Linked DNA regions of Homo sapiens: regions 1 and 2 are each linked to region 3. The links come from fine-mapping of genetic effects on gene expression. A gene starts in region 3. Each other region holds a variant in brackets. All regions are shown on one strand. Distances are between the middles of the regions.

Region 1 (8,192 bases), 390 kb after region 3:
CACAAAATAATTATAACAGAAAACAGTTTCTTTGAAATATGGAAAGCTTGCTCTCATTATGCTCAAAATATTTTCTTTTGCTAAATCTATGTGAATGTGGTCCATCTCCTAATCCAACCAGGACCCTAAGGGGTTGGATGGCCACTGGAATTTCTTTCCATCGCATTTAGACATCCTTCTTAGGCGGATATTGACTGCCATTGGGTTGTCTTGTCCCTCTTTGATGCCTCTTTTTTTATATTTGTAAATATATAAAAACCACCCTTTATTAAATTAAGGTGGGTCCAGTTCTCTATTTCTTTGTTCAAACACACCAGGATCATAGCCTCAAACCAAGAGACTAAAGTATCACATAAAAGGAAAAATATTTTTCAACACCTTTAATATTTAAAGGTCTTTGTTCTGTCCATCTCATTTGAGCATATCAGTTATCTCTGGATCAGTAAAGACATATTTTCTGAAATAAACCATACCTGAACTTTAGTAACTTAAAATACAATCATATTTATAATAACATTTCAGTTAGTTTTATAGGCATTTTGATTTATAATATATAGAAACTTCAAATAATTCTTAGAATTATTAAAACATGTAGCATTTAAATTATTTTAAACCTTGAGCTTAAAAAGCCAAACACTTTTTACCAGGTCCAGCATGTTTATTTTTTAAATAAAAGTTTTTTAAATAATGGAATTTATTTTTATATCTTTATCAAACACATAAATAAGCTGTAGTATATTCATACAATATAATATTATTTACCAATAAGAAAAGGGCTATTGGCCAGGCAGAGTGGTTCACGCCTATAATCCCAGCAGTTTGGGAGGCCAAGGTGAGCAGATTACCTGAGGTCAGGAGTTCGAGACCCGCCTTGCCAACATGGCAAAATCACGTCTCTACTAAAAATACAAAAATTAGCCAGGCGTGGTGGTGGGTGACTGTAATCCCAGCTACTTGGGAGGCTGAGGCGGGAGAATTGCTTGAACCCAGAAGGCAGATGTTGCAGTGAGCCAAGATCGCGCCACTGCAGTGCAGCCTGGGCGAGAAGAGCAAAACTCCATCTCCAAAAAAAAAAAAAAAAAAAAAAGCTATTGATTCATTTTAAAAAGATATGAAGGTACCTTAAATAAATATTAGTAAGCCAGTATTAAATAAATATACAAAGTATGTAAATAAATATACAAAGCCAGTATGAAAAGGCTACATATCTTAAATGATTCCAATTATGTGATACTCTAGAATAGACAAAACCGTAGAAACAGAACTGATCAGTGATCACAACTGATACAGAGATTTGAGGAAAATAGGAATGGTTGAATGGGTGAAAAGGGATTTTTTTATGGCAGTAAAATTATTCTGTATGATATGAAATGGTGGATACAAGGCATTACACATTTGTCAAAACCAATAGAACTGCAGAACAAAGAATGAATTTTGATGTAGCAAATTTAAAGAACATTTAGGAGGTTGGGAGATCAAGGTATAGATTGCAGAAAGTGTCTAAAGAATCTAGCTGTATTACAAATGTATGACACATCCTCACTGAAAGGGATTGGGAGTAAGGTGTTGACCTGAGTACTTATGGAAATAAGTGGAGTCTATAAGACTAAAGGAAAGAGACTGAACGTAAGCACTACACTCTGGTAAATAGAATTACTTCTTTTCAGGGTCTGGATTAACAATTTTGATTTTGCTATGCAGGTATACTGCAATGGAGCAATTAAGTAAATGGATGGCAGATGGTGCAAGGACAGCTTTGTTTCTGTTAGAGTGGGAATCTGCATATAAGCAAGAGGAGGAAGCTAGAATAATCTATGGGGTAATGGATTACACTTGAAGACATTAGTATAAACTCATGTTTAATATAGCTTCATAAAGATATAAATGGTTACATTTAAAAATTTATAGCTATATTTATATACACAGGTTAATACAGACACATGTTTTTTGCTCTGTCAGCTGAGAAGGTTTATAGGAAACCACATACCAGTATCAATGGGCATGCCTAGAGCCCAGGTCTTGGTTTCTAGTGTCGTTCTCCAACAAAAGTAATGAAGGCTTTTTGGAGAAATGTCTTTTTTTCTAAAACCAGGTTAGGAAATACACAAGAGGAACCTGGAGTATTTTGCCTTCCTTTCTCTTCCTTTCCCATCCTTCCCTGCATTGTTTTTTAAATGTTTAAACACAGAAAATATTTGTTATATAATGAGAAAAGAACAAAGTTACAATAAAAGCAATTTCAAGTTAGATGCTTAGGTTTCACTTTTAGATTTCAAACTTACCACTTCCTTGTGTAGGTCTCTGGAACTTTTGGATCGACCTTCAACAAGCCATTGAGAGCCACAGCATTGAGAATCACAACATTGTATGTTTTCACTGGAGAATTAAATATGGCATTATGGGTACTCCAATCCTGATCATGAGTCTACATGAGATAAATTATATTTACAGAAGACTATATGAGGAATATGTAGATCATCCCATGCTCTAGTTAGTCATGGACAAGTATATGACACTTGTGCTACTATTTTCCCTGTCCTGTCCTGTGATTGTGGCAGACATGAATAATTGAGTACAGCTCTTTTTCTAGGCTAAGAAAGTGGTCAGAGTTGGCCCTGGAGATGAAACCTCATTACCATTCCTTTTCTAGCAACTGAGTTATTTTCTTGAGTCAAGCTACACCATCAGAAAGCTGTCTTATATTAATACTTATCCAAACTGATATCCTTTTTAGTGCCTCAAACTAGATCCTGATCAGGCATGTTATAACAAGTTCGTATGTTTATTTTAGTGCAAAAAAAAATTGAAATCCATACATAGTTTTTTCATAATATGTATTTACCATAAACTTTTTGAAGTACTCTTGTATACATATGTATACACACACACACAAATACATACCCCACATTTTCTTTATTTTTTAAAATTTATGGACACAGGTTGATTCCATAGCTTGGCTATGGTGTATAATGCAGCAATAAACATGGGAGTGCAGATATATCTTTGGCATACTGACTTTATTTCATTGGGATATATACCCAGACATGGGATTGATGAATCGTGTGGTAGTTCTATTTTTAATGTTTTGAGGAACCTTCATATTGTTTTCCATAATGGCTGTATCAATTTACATTCTCACCAACAGTGTACAAGAGTTCCCTTTTCTCCACATTCTTACCAAAGCTTGTTATCTTTCTGCTTTTTGATAATAGCTGTCCTAAGAGATGTGAAGTGATATCTCATTGTGATTTTGATTTGCATTTCCCTGATGATCAGTGATGTTGAGGAGATTTGCATATATCTTTTGACCATTTGTATGTCTTTTGAGACATGTCTTATTTAGGTCTTTTGCCCACTTTGTAATTGGGTTATTTGTTTACTTGCTACTATAGTGTCCTTGTCTAATTTTGCTATCAGGGTAATGATGGCCTCACAAAATGAGTTTGGAAGTGTTCCTTCTTCTTCAGTTGTTTGGGAGAGTTTGAGAAAGATGAGTATTTGTTGTTCTTTAAATGTTAGTTAAAATTGATCGGTAAAGCTATCAGGTCCTGGGCTTTTTTTGAGGAAGGAGAAAGTTTTTGATTAATGATTCAGTCACCTCACTCATTATTGGTTTGTTCAGATTTTCTATTCTTTAATGATTCTGTCTAGGCAGTGTATTTATAGGAATTTATTTTTTTTAGGTTATTCAGTTTGTTGACATATAATTGTTGAGAGTAGTCTTTTATGATCATTTGTATTTCTGTGGTATCAGTTGTAATGTCTTCTTATTCACTCATTCATTTAGCCACTCTATCTTTTAATTGAAAAATTAATCTAATTACATGTATATTTAATAATGATAATAAACCAATTTAATTAAGAATAAAAAAATGAAAATCAATGAAAGCAAAATGTGTTCTTTAAAAAGGTCAATAATATCATCTAAATTCTATGCAGACTAACCAAGAAACAAAGAGAAGGAACTAAATTTAATATAAGTAAGGAAAGAAAGAACATCCCTACAGTCATCATAAATATTAAAATGATGCTAAGAGAATACTGAAAGTAAAAATGATGGCAGTGGCAGGCCTTCTGAAGTGGCCGCTGCCAGCACGCCAGCTGCAATGGGGAGGAGTGGGGTGCAGGTGGCAGGAACAGCTGTGCGAGCAGCAGCAGCAGAGACGAGTCCCCTGAGCCCCTTCATCTCTGAGGCACCTGACTGCACTACCCCCACCCTCCCATGGCTGGGCAGGACCCAGTCCCAGGCCTGGAGCCTCTGCTGCAGCCTCCATCTCACTCCCTACCACGTCCCAGGAGCCCACAAGCACCTGCCCGAAGGCACCAAGTTCCTGTACCTCGGGAAGAAGCTCTGTGCGGTGTCGCTGGAGAGTGCATCCCCAGGATCTGCCCTGCATTGAGGTGATCGTCGAGCCTGACACTCCTGACGGCTGGGCCCAGGGCCCATGATCCACTCCCAGAGGCACCCACCCCTGGGCAGGGCCATATGTGGGTGACAGGGAGCCCTGGGCCTCCCCGGACCACTGGGGCCACAGGAAGAACTCATGGTGATGTCACCCCTGCCCTAGACGCCAGCCTGGGCCCAGCCAAAGACCTGGAGCCCCTGCCCCAGGCTGCGAATAGATGAACAGGGAAGCTCTCCAGGACCACCATGACGAAGACCCCCAGAGTTTCCACAACCTGGGGAAGGGCATCTCCATGCAGGACCATGGGTCTTGGGGACAGCAGCCCAGGGAGGCTCCTCCAGGGAGGATACAGCAGGTGCAGACGTGACTTGGACAGCACATCAGTGGCTTCATCATCCACGGAGCAGGAGAGCAGCAGTGGGGCTTGGTGACACTGGACCCTCTGGAGTAAGCTTTGATGTCCTTAGCCTCTGATGGCCAATGGGGCAGCCTAGTCAAGCAGGGCTTCATCATGGTTGCACCCACCTGCACGCAGCCACCAAGCATGGCAGACAGTAGCTCTGCCCTCCCGGGTGCAGCTGCAACC[G/A]CTGAAGCCATGGCTGTGGACCTGGGCACCTCTGCACTTTTGGGGATGTGGGAACCCCCTCCATCCCTGCAGGCCTGAAAGTGCCTCCTCTGGCTGTCTGGCCTCTCCCCATTCCTGGCACCTGCTCCAAGTCTGGAGCAAAGTTGAGGCCAAGCCTGGGTGCTGTTGCAACCTGGCAGGTGTGCACATGCTCTGGGCAGCACTGACATGCCAGCCCCCTGCAACCTCAGCCCCCTCCAGATTTTGAGCACCGACAAGCACTGGGAGGAGGCTGAGAGCAACTTGGCAGCTGGCCTGTAGGTACCCCTTTGCATGAATAGCCTGGGTACCATAAACAGCAGTAATAGGCAGACAAGCTCCTGGATGGAAAGAGGTGGGTCCCCAGTGAAGCCCCACCCTAAAGCCTGGGAAGGCCTGAAGCCCAGGGACCAGGCTGCCAGTCCCATGGACCAGAATGGGAGCCTGTGGTGCTTTTTTCGGGCCCACCTGTGGCCACCCATAGACCAATCAGCACGCATTTCCTCTCCTCTGAGGCCCACTAAAGCCCTGGACTCAGCTAGACTTAAGGAGACAATGGGACAACCAGCCTCAGAGACGAGCTACCACCCCAGGGTCTCCTCTCTGCTGAGAGCTGAACACTTGTCAGGTCACCCTGGGTACAGAGAGGAGCTGCCCCTGTCAGTTTCCTCTTGAGCTGTTCCATTGCTCAATAAATTTCCCCTTTGTCTTGCTCACCCTCTACTTGTCTGCACACCTGATTCTTCTTGGATGCAGGACAGGGACTTGGGAATGGTGGGGCTAAAAAAGCTGTAAACCAAACAGCTGAAATATGCCCCTTGCTTGCCACATTGAGGGTGACAAGAAGGAGAGGAGAGAGATGGAGAGAAGAGCTGCTGCCCTTTTGGGAGCCCAGACCTAGGAGCTCCCCTAGCCAGGAGTGTGACACTCTTTTTAGTGCTCTGTGGTTCCTCACATCTCCAAGCTTCTGGGCACCTCTGCATTCCCCAGTGTCAGACACAGAAGCTGGTTATGGTATACCTGGTCCAGCTGCAGTCTTGCAGGGAGCCAAAACCTATTCCAGTGCCTGGAGCTGCCCACCCCACTGCAGCTGGCATGCCTGGCTGTGCGCAGTAGCCAGACCCCATGCTCACTCACATACCACCTGGCTCGTCCTTTGCAGGTGTGGGATCCAGGCCAGTAGCATGAACCAAGTGCAGCCTGCCAGGCTGAGTCAGTGGAATAAGCCCAGCAGGCCAGAGCAAAACGTGGGCAAAGGCACCACTGACCACAGAGTTTTCCTGCTGGCAAAGCGACACCCCAAGGATTCTGTGACAAAAATATGTACCCATAAATTGATATAATTAAGTGAAACAAATTAGTTTCTTGAAGGATACAACCTACCAACATTTATTCAAGAGGAAACAGACTATCTGAATAGTTTTTTTAATCTATTAAGGAAAGTAAATTTGTAGTAAAAAAATTTCTTACAAGAAAAACTTTAGGTCTTGACAGTTTCATAGTTAAATTCCATCACATATTTAAGGAAGAAATAATACCAATTTTTCTCAATTCCTTCCAGAAGTGTTTTATTTCTTCTTTAAATGTTCTATTTGATATAAAATAATTGTACATATTTTTGGGGTATGTAGTGATATTTTGATTCATATATAGTGATCCAATTGGGGTAATTAGCATATTCATCATCTCAAACATTTATCATTTCTTTGTATTGGGAACATTCTATTCTAAGTATATTTAAAGTAATTGATAGCTAGAGGGACTTACTCTTGCTATTTTATTAAAATTTTCTTACTGTCTTTAGCTTCTTCTCTTCCTCTGTTGCTATCTTCCTTGTGATTTGATTGTTTTTTGCAGTGACATGCTTTGATTCATTTCCCTTTACCTTTTGTATATCTACTAAAGGTGTTTTTTTGTTTGTTTTATTTGGTTAGCATGAGGTTTAAATAAAACATCTCATAGTTGTAACAGTCTGTTTTAATTTTATAACATCTTTGGTTGCATAGAAAAACTATACATTTTTACTGCTCTTTTCATGTTTGTTATTGATGTCACAATTTACATAGTATCATATTATGTATTTATTTACAAATTATTCTACCTATAATTATTCTTAATACTTGCATCTTTTAATTTTATACTAGAGATAAAAGTGATTTGTGTACCATCTTTAAAGTATTATAGTATTCTGAATTTAAGTAAATTCTTACCTTTATAGTGAGTTATAAGCTTGTATACATTTTTATCATGCTAGTTAGTATCCTTTCATTTCAACTTGAACTTTTAAAAAAACTTTTTGATATGGCAGGTCTAGTGGTGATGAACTCCCTCAACTTTTGTTTGTTTGAGAAACTCTTTATCTCTCATTTCTGAAGGATAGCTGTGTAGGGTATAGTATTCTTGGGTGCCAATTTTTTTTTCTTTAAGTACTTTGAATATATAATCTCATTGTCTCCTAACTGCAAAGTTTCTACTGAGAAATATGCATATGTGTAATGAGATTCCCTTCTATGTAACAAGTTGTTTTTCTCCACTACTTTTAGAATGCTTTATTTTTGACTGTTGATAATTTAATTATAGTGTGTTTCAGTGAAGATACCTTTATGTTTAATCTATTTGTGGTTCTTTGGGCTGCATAAATCTGAATATTCATTTCCCTCAGCAGATTTGGGAAATTTTCCATCATTATTTCTTTCTTTCTTTTCTGTTTTTTTTTTTTGTTTGTTTTTTTTTGAAATGGAGTTTTGCTCTTGTTGCCCAGGCTGGAGCGCAATGGCATGATCTTGGCTCACCGCAACCTCCATCTCCCAGGTTCAAACAATTCTCCTGCCTGAGCCTCCTGAGTAGCTGGGATTACAGGCATGTGTCACCACACCCGGCTAATTTTGTATTTTTAGTAGAGATGGGGTTTCTCCATGTTGGTCAGGCTGGTCTCAAACTCCTGACCTCATATGTTTTTACCCTTTTCTCTCTTTCTGTTCCTTTTATGATGTCCATAAAGCATATATTAGTTTGCTGGATGGTTTCCATATGTCCCATTGGCTTTCTCCTCTTTTTTCACTTTGTTCCTCTGACTGGGTAATTTCAAATGACCTGTCTTTGAAGTTGGTCATTTTTTTTTTCTTCTACCTGATCAAGTCTTCTGTTCCCTTGGTTGTGATATGTTTCTTTGATTATTTGAG
Region 2 (8,192 bases), 290 kb after region 3:
CCTCCGTCCTTTGCCTCCCAAAGCGGCATTAGCCACCTCACCTGGCCTGAATACTATTTTTAATGCTGCAGGGTGCTCATTTCTTTTATAAATCTATTGTTATACGTTGAACATATTTGAATGTATTTATTATTAACAGTGAAAATAGGACACTTTTATTTTCAAGTTTATTTCTACATTAAACCAAATTCATCTCTCTAGAAAACCTTCTTTGTTTGTTAACCCTTATTTATAACATCTAATGCAATCTTCCCAATGGTGAAAAACTCACCAAAAGGATATCTGTCCTTGTACCCAAAATAAAATTTTTACTTTTTGCTAAATTATGATCGTAATATTTCTAATGTGCAAAAATTCTCATTGCTAATCTCTCACAGTAAATTTTATTTAAAAAATTTAATTCTATTTTAAGTTCCAGGATACATGTGCAGGATGTGTAGGGTTTTTCTGTAGGTAAATGTGTGTGGTGGTGGTTTGCTGCACCTATCAACCTATCACCTGGGTGTTAAGCCCCACATTTTTTTAAATAGAGAAGATGTTTTTTGATAATTTGTAGTTTAGTATTCTGTGGGAAAATTAACGGTTTTATTCTGTTTTACCTCTGGTTCTTCAGCACTTTCAGATTTTGCTGTCAATTATATTCCATATGTGTTATATCTTTGAAAATTCAGCAAATCTGATGATAATACTTTTTAATGTTTTCTAATGTAATTCCTGATCTACTCTCATTTTTATATTTTGCTATCATTATCAGTGGGATTTAGGGAGTTGGTAGAGATATATTTATGTGTTTGCATATATTTAGATATATGTGTTTGCATATATTTACAGAAATTTCACATTTGCCACATCTTTATATTCTGAAATTATTTGGATATACAGACCTCTTATAATATACATCATTATTTTTCATAGTGTTGAAGATTGCATTATGTGGTATTTAAGACTCTATGATGGTATTAAATTAATCTTGTTCAAATAATATTAATTGAAGTTTACTCTGTTCAGGAGACAATGTTGAAACAATGCTCTTCATTTCTTTCCTCATATCTTCTATCCTATTCTAGGCCATAAGATGTTCTTCACCAATTCTTATAGGCTGTCTCTGTTACCCCATGTCCTAGTTTTGGTAAATATATCATAAACATTTTTTAATAGTCCACCATATCTATGCTTTATACTTAATTGGGGGAAAATATCAAGTTAATTTAACATCTCCAATAATCTACATAATTTCCAGACATAAACAATGCACGGCTTCTTTTTTCTGTGAGATTCTATCTTTCTATGTTGCTGACTTTTGTGTAAAAATTGGTGGCACTCTCAGTAGGCAATGTCTTACCTTTTCTTCCCGAGTAGTGATGATAAATTCACCCTTACATATTGAGATACATTTCAAGTTCCATCAGGCTCATGATTTTAAAATTTACAGGTGGGCCTGGGCGTATGCAGACTATGATTAGGAAATTGACCCTATAATCTAGTATCATTATTGACATCATCATATAGCAACACTCTGAACTTAGTAACACTAAGTGCAAAGATGAGATAAACCCTATACTTTTAGTATATTGAGTTTTAGGAACTTTTTTATTTCCTAAAAGATGTAACTTAGCTTAAGAAAAAAACACTGCATATTGAAGATTCAGCTTTTGCAGAATGGAAAAAAGAAAACATTAGACTGGTAGGAGTCAAGAAACAACATGTTGAATTGAGTCTGGTGCTAACTGAATGGTTTTGAGGAGGGCAGTTAGCCTATCTGGACCTTTGTTTCCTCATATTTAAACTGAAGGGGTTGGATGAGGCGATATTTACTTCTTCTTGCATACAATTTCCACTGTATAGAACTCAGTTTGAATAGAATCAAATCCATAATGAGGTCATATGGATTACTTCCTTCAGTGGCTTAAGATTTCTAGATGATTTGGGTAAAAATAAGTATTGCATAATATTTCTGGTCTAGTGTTGAAAAGCCCACTAAATGCAAGTTTATGAAAATCAACTTTTCATAAACCCTCAAATTAGTAAGAAGTAAATAAAAGATGGCAGAAATATAAATATGTAGAGTCAAATAGTGAATTTACCAAGGGGCTACAGTGTTCTAAACACTGAAACAAGTGCTGGAATGTTGGGAGGACATGGTGGTGAGATGGGAGAGGCATAGGAGAATATAACATGGGAAAAGAAGTTTTGCCAGGGAAAGACCGAATTCAAGCTGTTATCTTAAGTAATATTATCTATTATTAACTTTTTTGTGATACGATTTTATTCAGTTTTTTTGAAGAAACTTTTTACTTATAAAAATTCAGATTAATATAATAATATCAGTTCATTTTAATTTTTTTATAATGCACAAAGTATGGAATATAGAGTCCGAAGGACTTTTTTTTTCCCTCTCTTCATTCTGGGCATCTTAGTGGAAATGTCTTCCTCTGATAGCGTGGCCATCAACATGTTACTCTTCATAGCTCACTTTAAAAAAATATATTAATGAGAATTATATTTAACCTTCCTACATCACAGAAATAGCATGAAAACAAGTAAATGACTGTATGTAAAAGATGAATACAGGAACTATAATAACTACCTTAATAAGCAGAAAAGTGTTTAAGTGTATAACTGCAGTTCTAATATTTTTTCATAATTTAATAACAATTTTCATATTTTATGGGATACACGCAAAGTGATTTCCCTTTTTTAATTACTGGAACTACCTAGTTCATTCCTAGGCTAATGAACCAAAAGAAAAATGCCCTATCAATAGTTAGAATCTGTATTATAGATATGGAACAATGAGGAAAGTAGTGACAAATCCATCATAAAGATATGTTATGACAAATGCTCAAAATGAGCCTAGATGCAGAAAAAGTGCATTACAATCAAGACAAAAGTAATCAGCATCAATTCGAACAAATCAGATAAGAGCAAAAGTGATCTCTGTTTCTCCTTTATAAGCAGGTCAAAGCTGGCAACAGAGATGGGAAAGTAAATATGTAGTACTATTAGTTTCTGGATCATCATCTTCTGAAGTTTTGAAAAAAGGAATATTCTGCTCCCTCTTCTCCTCCTCACCTTTTGTCTTTAAGGTTTCTCAACTCTGAGCTGCTTGGCTATAATTTGCATAAAGTTATCATGGCCACACATCACTCTGTCCTTGGGGAATGTAACAGATATGCATCATCCCACGACATCTGACGAGAAGCTCAGAAAATGAAGTTGGTGAAGGTATCATTGTCTTCTAAGTCAAGGCCCAGGTTGTCAGAAAAAGTGAGGGTGGCACATCCACAGTCAAATCCATGGCAGACTTTAGGTTTCAGTGGAGATGGCCCTGGCTTTCACCCAGAAGTCTTGGGTTGGGTTTCAATTAACAATGCAATATTTGACATCCCTCTGTTTTTTTTTTTTTTCATTTTCAGTTTCCTCATCTGTAGTAAAGATAACACCTGCTCTCCCCATCTCCTTAGGTTATTTTGAGAGGCAAATGAGATCATGTATCCGAGAATACTTACATAAATGTTACTTTAATTCACTTTTATGTGTGTATCCTTGCTTTATGAACAATGTTTCTTCCAGGTAAGGATATGTATGTTCAGGATATATACCTAGTAAAATTCCTGGCACAGAGTATTTGTTAAATGTTTGTTGAATCTGAGTGAACCTGAAGCAACTTGGAAAAACCAGAGTTTGGAAGAAATAACAATGAAGCGAGCCAAAATGTTAATTCCCTCTTTCGTTTTTGTTATCTCCTTTCTTTCTTCTCTTTAATCTCTATTAAGATCTCTAAAAATATGGAAGATTTTACTTTTCAAAGGAGAAGACATTGCATTTCCCTTTCCTTATGGGTATTATCAATTTCTCTCTGCCTTTATACAGGCATACCTTGGAGGTGTTGTGGGTTTTTTTCCAGACCACCAAAATAAAGTGAGTCACACTAGTTTTTGGTTTCCCAGTGCATATAAAAGTTATGTTTACATTATACTGTGTCTATTAAGTGTGCAATAGAATTATGTCTCTCTATCTCTATCTCTATCTCTCTCTCTCTATAAATATAAATTAAGGTATAAATATATAGATATATATGTCTTAATTTTAAAATACTTGCTGAGTGTAGTGGTTCACATCAGTAATCTCAGCTACTCAGGAGGCTGTGGCGGGAGGATCTCTTGAGGCTAGTAGTGCAACACCAGCTTGAGCAATAGTGAGACCTCCTCTCTTAAAAAAAAAAAAAAAAAAGGAAGGAAAAAAAATTACCTGGGCATGGTGGTATGCTTCTGTAGTTTAAACTACTCAGGAGGCTGATGTGGGAGGATCACTTGAGCCCAGGAATCTGAGGCTGCCATGAGCTATGATTGCCCCACTGCACTCCATCCTGGGCAACAGAGACC[A/G]CAACTCAGAAAAAAATGCTTTATTGCTTAAAACTGCTAACAATCATCTGAGCCTTCAGCAAGTCATAATTGTTTTGCTGGTAGAGGGTCTTGCCTCAGTGTACATGACTGCTGATGATGACAGTGATAGTGCTGAAGATTAGGGTGGCTGTGGCAATTTCTTCAAATAAGACAAAGTTTGCAGCATCAATTGACTCTTCTTTTCATTAAAGATTTCTCTGTGTCTTGTGAAGCAGTTTGATAGCATTTTACCTCCAGTAGAACTTCTTTCAAAATTGGAGTCAATCCTCTCAAACCCTGCTGCTACTTTATAAACTAAGTTTATGTGATATTCTAAATCTTTTGTTGTCATTTCAACAATATTCACAGTATCTTCACTAGGAGTAGATACTATCTCAGGAAACCACTTTCTTTGCTCGTCTGCATGAAGCAACTCTTCATCTGTTCAAGTTTTATCATGAGATTGCAGCAATTCAGTCACATCTTCAGGCTCCACATTTTATTCCAGTTCTCTTGCTATTTCCACCACATCTGCCGTTACTTCCTCCACTGAAGTCTTAACCACCTCAAAGTCATTAATGAGGATTGGATCAACTTTTTCTAAAACTCATGCTAATATTGATATTTATTTTGAACTCCTCCCATGAATCACCAATGTTTATTTATTTATTATTTTTTTTTTGAGATGGAGTCTTGCTCTGTCACCAGGCTGGAGTGCAGTGCTGCAATCTCGGCTCACTGCAACCTTTGCCTCCTGGGTTCAAGTGATTTCCCTGCCTCAGCCTCCTGAGTAGCTGGGACTACAGGCACACACCACCATGCCTGACTAAATTTTTGTATTTTAGTAGAGATGGAGTTTCACCATGTTGGCCAGGATGGTCTTGATCTCCTGACCTCGTGATCCACCCGCCTCAGCCTCTCAAAGTGCTGGGATTACAGGCATGAGCCACCATGCCCAGCCAGATCACCAATGTTCTTAATGGCGTCTAGAATGGTTGATCCTTTACGGAGATTTTAAATTTATTTTCCCCGGATTCATCAGAAGAATCACCATCTATGACAGCTGTAGCCTTACAAAATGTATTTCTTAAATAATGACTTGAAATTTGAAATTACTCCTAGATCCATGAGCAGCAGAATGAATGTTGTGTTAGCAGGCACGAAGACAACATTAATCTCCTTATACATCTCCATTGAGTTCTTGGGTGACAAGGTGGATTGTCAACGAGCAGTAATATTTTGAAAGGAATCTTTTTCTCTAAGCAGTGGGTCTCAATAGTGGGCTTAAAATGTTCAGTGAACCATGCTGTAAAGACTTGAGCTGACATCCAGACTGTTGTTCCATTTATAGAGCACAGATGCAGTATATTCAGCATGATTCTTAAGGGCCCCACGATTTGCTGAATGGTAAGTGAGCATTGGCTCTGACATAAAATCACCAACTGTGTTAGTCCATAACAAGAGTCATCTTGTACTTTGAAGTTTTGAAGCCAGGAGTTGACCTCTTCTCTTTAGCTATGGAAGTCCTAGATGGCATCGTTTTTCAATAGAAGGCTGTTTTATCTACATGGAAAATGTATTGTTTATTGTAGCATCCTGTATCAGTAATGTTAGCTTTATCTGGATAATTTGCTATAGCTTCCACATCAGCACTTGCTACTTCATCTTGCACTTTTATGTTATAGAGATGGCTTCTTTCCTTAAATCTCATGAACTAACCTTTTCTAGGTTCAGGTGTTTCTTCTACAGCTTCTTCACCTCTCTCAACATTCACAGAATTGAAGAGAGTTCAGGTATTGCTCTTGATTAGGCTTTGGTAAGGGAAGGTTGTGGTTGGTTTGATTTTCTATCCAGACCACTCAAACTTTCTTCTTATCAGCAATAAGGCTGTTTCACATTCTTATCATTTGTGTGTTCACTGGATTAGTACTTTTTAAATTTATTTCAAGAACTTTTCCTTTGCATTCACATCTTGGCTAACTGGTACAAGAGGCCTAGCTTTCAATCTATCTGGGCTTTTGAAATGCCTTCCTCATTAAGCTTAATCATTTCTAGCTTTTGATTTAAAGTGACAGACATATAACTCTTCCTTTCACTTGAATGCTTAGAGGCCATTGTAGGGTTATTAATTGGCATAATTTCAATATTATTGTGTCTCAAGGAACAGAGAAGTCCAAGGAGGGGGAGAGAAATAGGAGAATGGCCAGTTGGTGGAGCAGTAAAAACACACACGACATTTATCAATTAAGTTTGCCACTTTATGTAGGCGCGGTCCATGGTGTCCCAAAACAATTACAATAATGATATCAAAGATCACTGATCACAGATCACCATAACAGACATAATGATAATAAAAAAGTTTGAAGTATTGTGACAGTTACCAAAATGTGATACAGAGAAAAGTGAGCACATGCTGTTGGAAAAATGGCCCTGATAGACTTACTCGATGCAGGGTTGCCACAAAGCTTCAATTCATAAAAAACATAATATCTGCAAAGCTTAATAAAATGAAGTGCAATAAAACAGGGTATACCTGAATATAACTTGTAATCATTATCAGAGCCCTTCTATTTTTGCAGAAAATTGTTCTTGACGCTACAATTTTTCCAGCTATTTTCAAATCCTTTTTTCTTCCTATGAAATCTCAATTTGCTGATTGTCTAGTTTAAAACAACTACTTCTATTCCCGCCCCCTGTCCCCCACCACCACTCCCAACTTAATGTTTTGCAATTTTACTTTCATAATTTTACTCTACCACTACTATTCTCAATAGGGTCATCAATGAATTCCTTCTATATAAATTCACAGCCCCTTTTCTAGCTTTACCTTAGTGTTCCTTTCTACTGCAGTTTACTTCATCAGCTTTCCTTTCTTCCTTGCTACCCTTTTCCGCTTAACTTCAATGACACCATAATTTCTTCCTTCTCAGACCTTTCAAAATACTCATTTTGTGTCTCTTTTTCAGGTTCTTTCTGCCCTCTTTTCCCATTAATGGCTATTTTTGGGGTGCTCAACTATGCTTTCTCCTACTTCTCTTTGATCCTCACCTTACCAAGAAAGCTTATGTGGGCTTTATTATTACCAGTACACAGATGGTATCCAAATCTTTCTTCTTTCTAAGAATGTTTCTTATTCTGATCAATGTGTCACTTAAATTTTTTTTTTACCAGCACTTAAAACCCACAAGTTAAGATATTTTATTCATTGGAGAGGCATAACTAGAGGCCATCTAAGGACCAGAAACAAGAAAAGCTTCTTTGCATTAACTATCATATTATCAGGAACTAAATATACATGCCTGCAGAACTGGATACAGCTAAAAATTTTCTTGAAGGCCACTGTTTAGCTTTAAAGATAAACAGAAATGGAAATTTAAATGCACTTGCCTTTCTTTCCTTCCCCCAAATGGCTTATAAATGGTATTGTGCATAGTAGACACTGATGTGGTCAACTAAATAAGTATGGCAGCAGTTAATGAGGACAGAAAGAAAATGTTAATTAGAAGTACTATATAGTGAAAAGCAGACTTTCCTAATGCTGGATCTTTACTTACATAATATTTCAGTGGTGGAGATTTGACCAAGTAGTAACAAGGTTAAGTAAGACAAAATCAGCTTGGTCAGTTTAAAAAGAATTTGAGTATAGCACTTTGAATATAAAACATCCTTGCATAAATGATATTGTTTTAAGTCTAGTTCTGGGAACTTAAATCCTATGACCTCATTTGAGCATGGCTTTGGACACTAGAATTATGAGTTTGTGATGGGTCAGAATTTCTCTTAGAATACATTTTCAGGAGAGAGTAC
Region 3 (8,182 bases):
TACAAAAGAGCTGTTAATCTCTCTAATCAGTGGCTTTCACTGGGTGTGGGGATGGTGTTTCTTGGGAAGAGGGTCTTCGTGCTTTGCTAAGAAGAGGGTTGTTTAATAATCTGGATTCTTCTATACTTTTAAACGGCCCGTTTACATTCTTATCCTTTCTTTAGATGATGACCCCATAAATATTCTTCTGATTCCAGCCCAATCTTTGTAACCCATCAACTCTTTTAGCAGACTTAACCCTTAAATGGTCTTTTGTTTACCTGTAGTTGGGTTGTGGGTACCATTGCTCCTCAAGTCTACAGCCCAGAGTGAAGCAGAAATTGTTATTCTGTACCTGCAATGGATCTAGACTCATTATTGGTAAAACCTACCTACCAAGGGAGTGTGCTCCAAAAGAGTTGGGGTAGGGTTATAGGAGCCAGGTTGTCTTCTCCATATATCACCCTACCAGACTTTGGTCACATAATTAAGTCTTTGTAGTTTATTTCTTATGGATATGGTCTTTTCAAGGCTGAAAAATTATTCACTACATCGCAATTTATAAACTGCTGTTTAGTGCATGGATAGAAAAACAGGCAAGAGCAAACTGATCTTTCAAATTAATAAATGCTTTTGCGTGATCAAATCCAAAGGCCTCTCTATAATTCTCAGTTTTTTCAACCTTTAGGTAGCATTTTACACTCCTGATCATGCCTTAATCTTGACTATCTGCTGTCTTTTCCATTCTATGACACAGTGCCACAGAGAATAGGATATTATTGGCTTGCTTTTCCAGTTTTTTTGAAAACTCTTTTAAATGGCTATTCTTCCTTCACTTTCCCCTAATTTTCATTTTCCCTTTATTTTCACATTTCGCAAGTCTCTTCCTTCATCTTTCTTCTCAGCAGACTCAAACAATCTCTCCTTTATTAATCTTATTAATGTTAATGGCAGGCATCCTATCTTCTTCCATTACTGGTGGGAACTGGGAGAAGAAACTCTTGGGACATGGCTAAACATTTGGGCTATAAAATAAGGATAACAGATGCTAATTGGAATGGTATAAGCATTTTAAATTTTAATTTTTAATTTTAAGACTAATAATTCTCCTTTAAAAAATTAAAATATAAAAGATAAAAGTCTCCATGGGCCATTATCTCCATTCTTTGTTCCCATCTCCCTCCCCTAAAGTAACCATTGCTAGTAATACAGAGCAACTTTACTTATATATTTGAATATAAATGTTATAATAGTAAGCATACCATTCTGGAATTTGTGCTTTTTATTTGTCAAAATGTTTGGATATTTTTCTGTGTTAGAATATAAAGTTCTTCCTCAGGCAATAGCATTTAAATAGTAGTAATTTTTGTGGCAAAGTATATAAATGAAATCCTGCCTAGGATACCTGGTGGAACTTGAACTTTAATGAGGATCTTTGTGCAGTTTGTCAGAGTGATTCCAAAATTGAAATCATGCTGATGGTGGTAGAAGTAGTTCCTTGGCTTTCTGATCTTTAAACATATTGAGCATTTTTGTTTTTTTTTTTTTTGGATTTTGGGGTGGCTGACTTCAACTGGGCTATATATAAATGGTTCCAGCACAACCACGTATGAATTGATGATGGTAGTGAGTATCCAACTTTCAGTCTTGAACACCTAAGGATAATAGTCGAGTAATTGAATTAAAAAGTTTTTATATGGTATCTTACCTTGTTCCTTGGTCATTGGATTTCTTCAATTATAGATTTTATTGATAAGGAATGCTCATTTACAAGTTCAACTATCATAACAGTGACTTGGATGTCTTTTCTTTAAAATCTAAGATGATAAATTAGCAATAAACGTGCTGGAAATCTTTAAGTCTAGTTACCTAATTATGGGGATTCCGAATCAAGGAGCCAACTGCTTTTGGCAAGTGGTCACACTGTCCAGTGTATCAATAGTAAAGGTGAATGTGATGTAAGGTCACAGCCAAAAGACTGTGTTCCAGGAAGTGACTCCTCACCAGACACCAAATCTTGTCCTTGCGTCTTGATTTTGGACTTCTCAGCCTCCATAACTAAGAAATAATTAATTTCTGCGGATTACCTATCCAGTTTATGGTATTCTGCTATAACAACCCAAATTAAGATATTTAGTAAATAATTTATTAGCACCTACGATGCAGCAGGAAATATGCTAAATGATTAGGGAGAGCAATAATTTTCAGAAGATTAAAAAAGCTTTCCAAAAAGACATAGCACTTGAGAAGAACTTTAAAGAAAGGGTAGAAGTTCCATGGGGGAAAGTGTGGTGGTGGGGAAGTTTAACATACTGGATACAATAAAGATCTTAATTCACAGATAAATTATAAAGTGCTTGAAGTAAGGGACTATATGTTCTCTTAATCTTTGTGTTGATCCCACTTTTGCACAGCCTCTACTTTATTCTTATAGGAAAACATGTAGCATGGCCGTCCTTAATTACCGAGTTGCAAAATAAAGCAGGTGTTATGTCCTGCCCCTGCAGAGATCCTCAAACCTTAGCATGCATCAGAATCACCTGGAGAGCTTGTTAAAACGCAGACTGCTGAGCCCTATTGCCAGTGTTTGGGATTCCCGAGGTTTGAAATAGGGGCCTGTAGGGAATGAGAAACATCTTTCTTTCCTGTTGCTAGATTCCTGTTTGAGTCCCTTATAAGAAAAGACAGATTAATAAGAGAAAAGCGTGCAAATTTATTTAAGTTTTATGTGGCATGGGAGCCTTCAGAGATGAAGCCCAAAGAAACAGGAAAACCTGTGCATTTTTAGAAGGAACAGTGGACAGTTGTGGGGAAGTACGGTTGGACAAAGCATGGTCTAATGGTAATAAACTGGGGTAAGTTGTCAAAGGTCTTTTTGTTCAGATTCTTTTCTATGTCTCCGTTTCTTTAGAGATAAGGATATTTCTTTCCTGTGGGTATAGGAAGAGCACCTCTGGATTGAGGATCCAATGACCCGCCTCAGGGAAGAAGGATGGGAGAAGGTCAGAGAGTGATCTTAGGTTTTGTTGTTTTCTCAAATGTCAAGGGGCCATATTTTGGGGTAGCATATCCTGAACCCCATCAGCGGTGAAAACTTGTATTTCTACATAGTTCCCAGGTGATGCTGTTGCTAGGTTCTAGGATCACGTTTTGAGAACCACTGCTTTAATGTAATTTATATCTAACCACTGCTCCAGCATTCTTTTCTGTAAGCATCCAGAATGCTGTGACAAATTCTTGTCAAACTTTAAGAATCTTCAGGATGTCAAATTCTGTCTTGAGGTCAATAAAGATGGGTAGGGGACGAAATAATCTTTGCTCAACCTTTGGCACATTACAATGATGTTTTTCAAATAGTAGGGCTCAAACGTGATGCATTGGAAAATTGGAAAATTGGAAAATCAAATAATCATATGGTAAATATTTTAGTAGGTTTCTTATTTAATCAACTCTTAATAAGATGGGATGGATAACATTCCTGAGTTAGAAAAACATATTGCAAGCGCTGTCAGAGGAAAATTAAGTTCAAGTCCATCAGCAATCTTTACTCATGTTTTGCTTTATATATTTGTGAGTGCCGTACACAGAACTGAGTCCAGTGTTGACTTGAGTCTAATCAATACACATATACGTATACATGTGTGTGCCTCAAATATATCTGATTGAACTTAGTAAGCCACAGAACTGTAATATATATGATATAATCAATGTGTTATACATTATATTACAATAATTATACACAAAATAATACATTATTCTGTATGTTAAGGGAGAGAGGACAACAGCAAAGAAGACAGAGTGCTACAACGTCCAGGCTGTAAAAGTCATTTTATTCTGGAGGAAATGCAACACCAAAGTTGTAACAGTCTTTCAATAAAGTAAAACAGAATCATCGAAAGGGCTCCTGGGACAATTGAGGCTAGAATGATCTTGGTCAGTCAGTCCTGTGGACTTGAGGGCAATCTTCCCTCCCACTACCGGTTGGGGAGCCCTGATGTCGCCTCCCGCAGAGCGCCACTTGGCCTGGCCTGCGCTTCACCTTCATTTCCGCCCGCGGAATCCTCCAGGATCTTCCCGCCAAGGCTGGGGTTTCCGCTCCGCGGCGTCCGAGCGCCAGCGGACTGCGCATGTGCAGGACCCAGCAGGTCTAGAGCTTTTCTGTGTTTCTCCGGACTTCGAGCCATGGCGGTGACGGAAGCGAGCCTGTTGCGCCAGTGCCCCCTGCTTCTGCCCCAGAACCGGTCGAAAACCGTGTATGAGGGATTCATCTCGGCTCAGGTACCCGCCCAGTGGTTGCTTTCTAGCTAAGAGAGCCTCTTGCAGCGTAGCTGCGCGGAGAAGTCTGTGACGGGCTAGGAGGTTAGGGGCCCAGACTTGTGGGGATTGAGAGGGGCGGCGCGTAACGGCTCTTGGGAGACTAAAGGTTTGAGAAGCGCCGCTGTCGCCGCCACCCCGGTGGTCGCCGCGCTGGATGGGGAGCGAGGAGGCGCGCGGCGTGGAGCGGGGCTGGGGCCACGCCTCCTCTCTCCCTAGCCCTTCCCCGAGTTTGGCTTCCTTCTTCGTTCAGTGTCCCGCAATTGACTGTTTTTTAATTTTTTTTTTGTAAATTTTGCCTTAACTCGATTTTAACACCCTCCACCTCCACGGATGTTGATGAGTTCACTCGGGAATCTGGGCTAATTATTTTCGTGTTTCCTGTAGAAAGAACATTTGGGAAGAAAACCTTATTTTGGCCCTTTGCCAAGTCGTATGTACCTGTACACCCACAGTTACAATATCTTCTAGGAGAAGCATGACAGCAATGGAATTAATTAACTTTGCTGATTCCAGTGGCCTCTCATATGGAGTTTATTACACATACTAACACATGTGTAGGGTTTTGAAGTTTACAAAGCGCTTTCCAGGTAAATAGTTCACTTAATCCTCAGCCCTTTGAGGCAGAAATTTTTAAAAGAATCATCATTCCCATTTTCTAGTTGAAGAAATCAAGGTATGGGAAACCGGAGACGTTATTTGCTGATGATCACATCAGAATCCCTTAAACGCAGGCTGTGTGATTTCAGTCCTGGATTTTTTTCTCTTTACATTGCACCAGGATACCTTAGGTTAGGAGTGTAGACTTTTCCTTTCTGACCATTACACTCAACCTTGTGCCCACTTCCCCACCATCACGCATAGTCTTTGAGTATATGTGGAATTACCATATGACCATCACAGAAAGTAGAGGTTAAAAATTCATTATTCCATATGGAAAAAAGTTAATCCACCTTTCCCTCTCCAATTAGAAGTATTCTTCTTGAATTACCTAGCTGAAAATATGATTCTCTTGTAGACAACATTTAGAAAAGTTGAAAAATTTTAAGTTACTTTTTTTTTTTTTTTTTTACAGGAAGCATGTTATACCTAATTTTAGGCAAAATACTGTTATGTATGTCTATATCTGCTAAGGCCTTTTAGGAAACAAGTACACCCATTAGAATTGAGATTAGATGAAAGTTTCTTTTATGACCATTGCTATAGCTAGAATTCCAATTTGTACCTGCCTTAGCAGTTTATTTAAATCTTAAACATTTTACGTGTCTAAAAATATTTTGTATATATTTTAAATTTACAGAAAAGTAGCAAGGATATACAGTACAAGTAATTCCAGTATACCCTTTACCTAGATTCACCAGTTTACATTTTCTCCATTTTACTGATCATTGTTAAGTATATGTATGTGGGTGGGTGTGTATACACATTATTTTCCTGAACCATTTGAGGTCAAATCAGGCGTAGTTCCCCTTTATCCCTAAATACTTGAGCATACATTTCATAAGAACGAGGACACACTCATACATAACCACAGTACAGTGATTAAAATCAGGATATTTAATGATATACTATTATCTAAGATAGAGTCCATATTTCAAATTTTGTTTATGATACAGTTGTATGTTTTATACCCCCATCCCCTACCATCTGTTGTTAAGATCCCACATTACATTTAGTTGTCATGTCTAACCTGGAACAATTCTCAGTCTGTTTGTGTTTTTTATAAGCTAGACATTTTTAAAGAGTACAGATTGGCTGTTAGGTAGAATGTATCTCAATTTGGGTTTGGATGATATTTCCTCACTATTAAATTCAGCTAATGCATTTTTGGCAGGGATACTACAGAAAGATTGTTTTGTCCTTCTCAAGGCTTGTGAGGTTACCTGGTTGGTTCCATTATTAATGATGTTAACTTTGATCACCTGGTTAAGGTATCATCTGTCAGAGTCTCCTTTTGTAATTAATAAGTACTTTTGGGGAGGTACTCTGAGGCATCAAACTTTCACACACATTCTCTGGTTTTAGCGTCCATTGACTTTTGCTTGAGTCGACTATTACTATCACGGTTGCCAAATGATGATTTTCTAACTCTTGTCATTTCTATATTTATGAAGTGGCAATTCATTATAAGGAGTAGCATTGCCTGCTTTCTCATTTATTTAATTATATTAGAATGGATGCATGGACTTTTAAAAAAATTACTTGATTATAATCATTATTTATTTTGATCCTCGAATTGTCCCAGATTTGGCCAGTGAGCAGGTTTTATGTATGTAAGTTTTTAAGGCTTTGCATTTCCTCTCATCAGTGTTTTAAAAGTATCCTATAGATGCTGACATGTAGCCTTATAACCACCATTTTTAGAAGCTATATGATGTCAATTTACTATGCACCTTAATAGGTTGTAAAAATTTTCTCGTGGAAGGTCCTTTTTGGTTTTTAATTTTGTTGCTGATTTCTAATTTTTCTTGTATTGTAATTAGACAGTATTGTTTATAAAAAAGTCTCCATGGAACTTACTGGTACTTTTTCCTGTGACCTAATATGTAATCAGTTTTAGGTGTTGTCTCTATTATCAGATTTTCTCTTTCCTTTTGAGTGAGCTTTGGTAGTTTGTGTCTTTCAAGGAATTTGTTAGTTTCATCTAGGTTTCTGATTTTATTGGCTTAAAGTTATTTACAATAATCCCTTATTATCCTTTTAATGTCTTTAGGATCTGTAATGATGCTCTCTATGTTGGTTATCTTTTGCTGCTATTTACTTCAAACCTTAGTGGCTTAAAACAAAAACAATTATTGTCTCACTGTTTCTGTGGATTTGAAATTTGCGAACAACTTGGATGGTAGTTCTTGATCAAAATCTCTCATGATCTTGCAATCAAGATATTTGCCAAGACTTTGATGGTCTAAAACAGGGTGTCCAATCTTTTGGCTTCCCTGGGTCACATTGGAAGAAGAAGAATTGTCTTGGGCACACATAAAATACACTAATGATAGCTGATAAGCTAAAAAAAAATCACAAAAAATCCCATAATGTTTTAAGAAAGTTTATTAATTTGTGTTGGGCTGCATTCAGAGCTGTCCTGGGCTGCCAGTTGGTCAAGCTAGAGGTGGAGGATTTGCTTCCAAGATTGCTCATTCACATAGCTATTGGCCATGAGGCCTCAGTTTGTTACTGCTCTTAACAGGAGGCCTTAGTTCCTCACCACATGGATCTTTATAGTGTTGCTTGACTGTTATCACACATGGCAGCTAGCTTCTCCTGAGTGTATGATACAACAGAGAGATCAATAAAGATGCACATTCTCTTTAATCTCTTAGTCTCTGAAGTCACACACATTTACTTCTGCTTTATTGTGTTAGATGCAAGTTTCTTAGTCTATATTCAAAAGGAGGGAAATTAGGCACCAACTCCTAGAGGTAGGAGTGTCAAATAATTTATGGATATACGTTAAAAATAGCTTTCATCCTCATATCTGATGTAGGTAATTTATGTCTCATTTTTTCCCCCGATACATCTAGATAGAGGTTTATAAATTTTACTGATTTCTTCAAAGAACCTGTCTTTAATTTCTTCAATTTTTTTCTATTATTTTTATGTTTCTATATGATAGTTTTCTGATCTTAAGTTTCCTGATTTCTTTAGATGGAAGATTATTGATATGAGATCTTTCTTCTATTCTAGTACAGATATTTAGTGCTTTAAATTTTCTTTTGAATACTGGTTTAGCTATATCACACACATTTTGGTGTGCTGTAGTTTTGTTTTTATTCAGTTCCAAATGCCTTTTAATTTCTTCTTTGATCTATGGCTCACTTAGAATTATGATTATCTTTCTCAATATTAAGGATTTTCTAGATATCTTTTTGTTATTGATTTATAATTTAGT

Direction of the effects. Positions count from the first base shown, and alleles are read on the strand shown. Sizes are in standard deviations (SD) of each study's normalised expression. Not every link is listed here.
With allele A in place of G in region 2, the expression in monocytes of the gene that starts at base 4,150 in region 3 is higher (large effect, 0.87 SD a copy in BLUEPRINT).

What was found. PIP is the estimated chance that this variant, and not a neighbour inherited with it, causes the effect.
Region 1: its variant is the best candidate, but not a certain one, in a credible set for the expression of FANCL in whole blood (INTERVAL, PIP 0.63).
Region 2: its variant is the best candidate, but not a certain one, in a credible set for the expression of FANCL in monocytes (BLUEPRINT, PIP 0.55).

Annotation. Positions count from the first base shown.
Region 1 is chr2:57,846,866-57,855,057 of GRCh38, reverse strand. No RefSeq gene overlaps it. Among named protein-coding and RNA genes, the nearest start is that of VRK2, 200 kb to the left of the region's middle. The variant G/A (reference allele first, on the strand shown) is at 4,993.
Region 2 is chr2:57,947,966-57,956,157 of GRCh38, reverse strand. It overlaps a transcript of VRK2 not described here. Among named protein-coding and RNA genes, the nearest start is that of VRK2, 95 kb to the left of the region's middle. The variant A/G (reference allele first, on the strand shown) is at 4,386.
Region 3 is chr2:58,237,293-58,245,474 of GRCh38, reverse strand. It overlaps FANCL (FA complementation group L), which reads left to right and starts at 4,150. Exons shown (of 14, transcript NM_018062.4): 1 at 4,150-4,257. The coding sequence starts at 4,162. RefSeq lists an enhancer at 3,803-3,962 and a silencer at 4,503-4,552.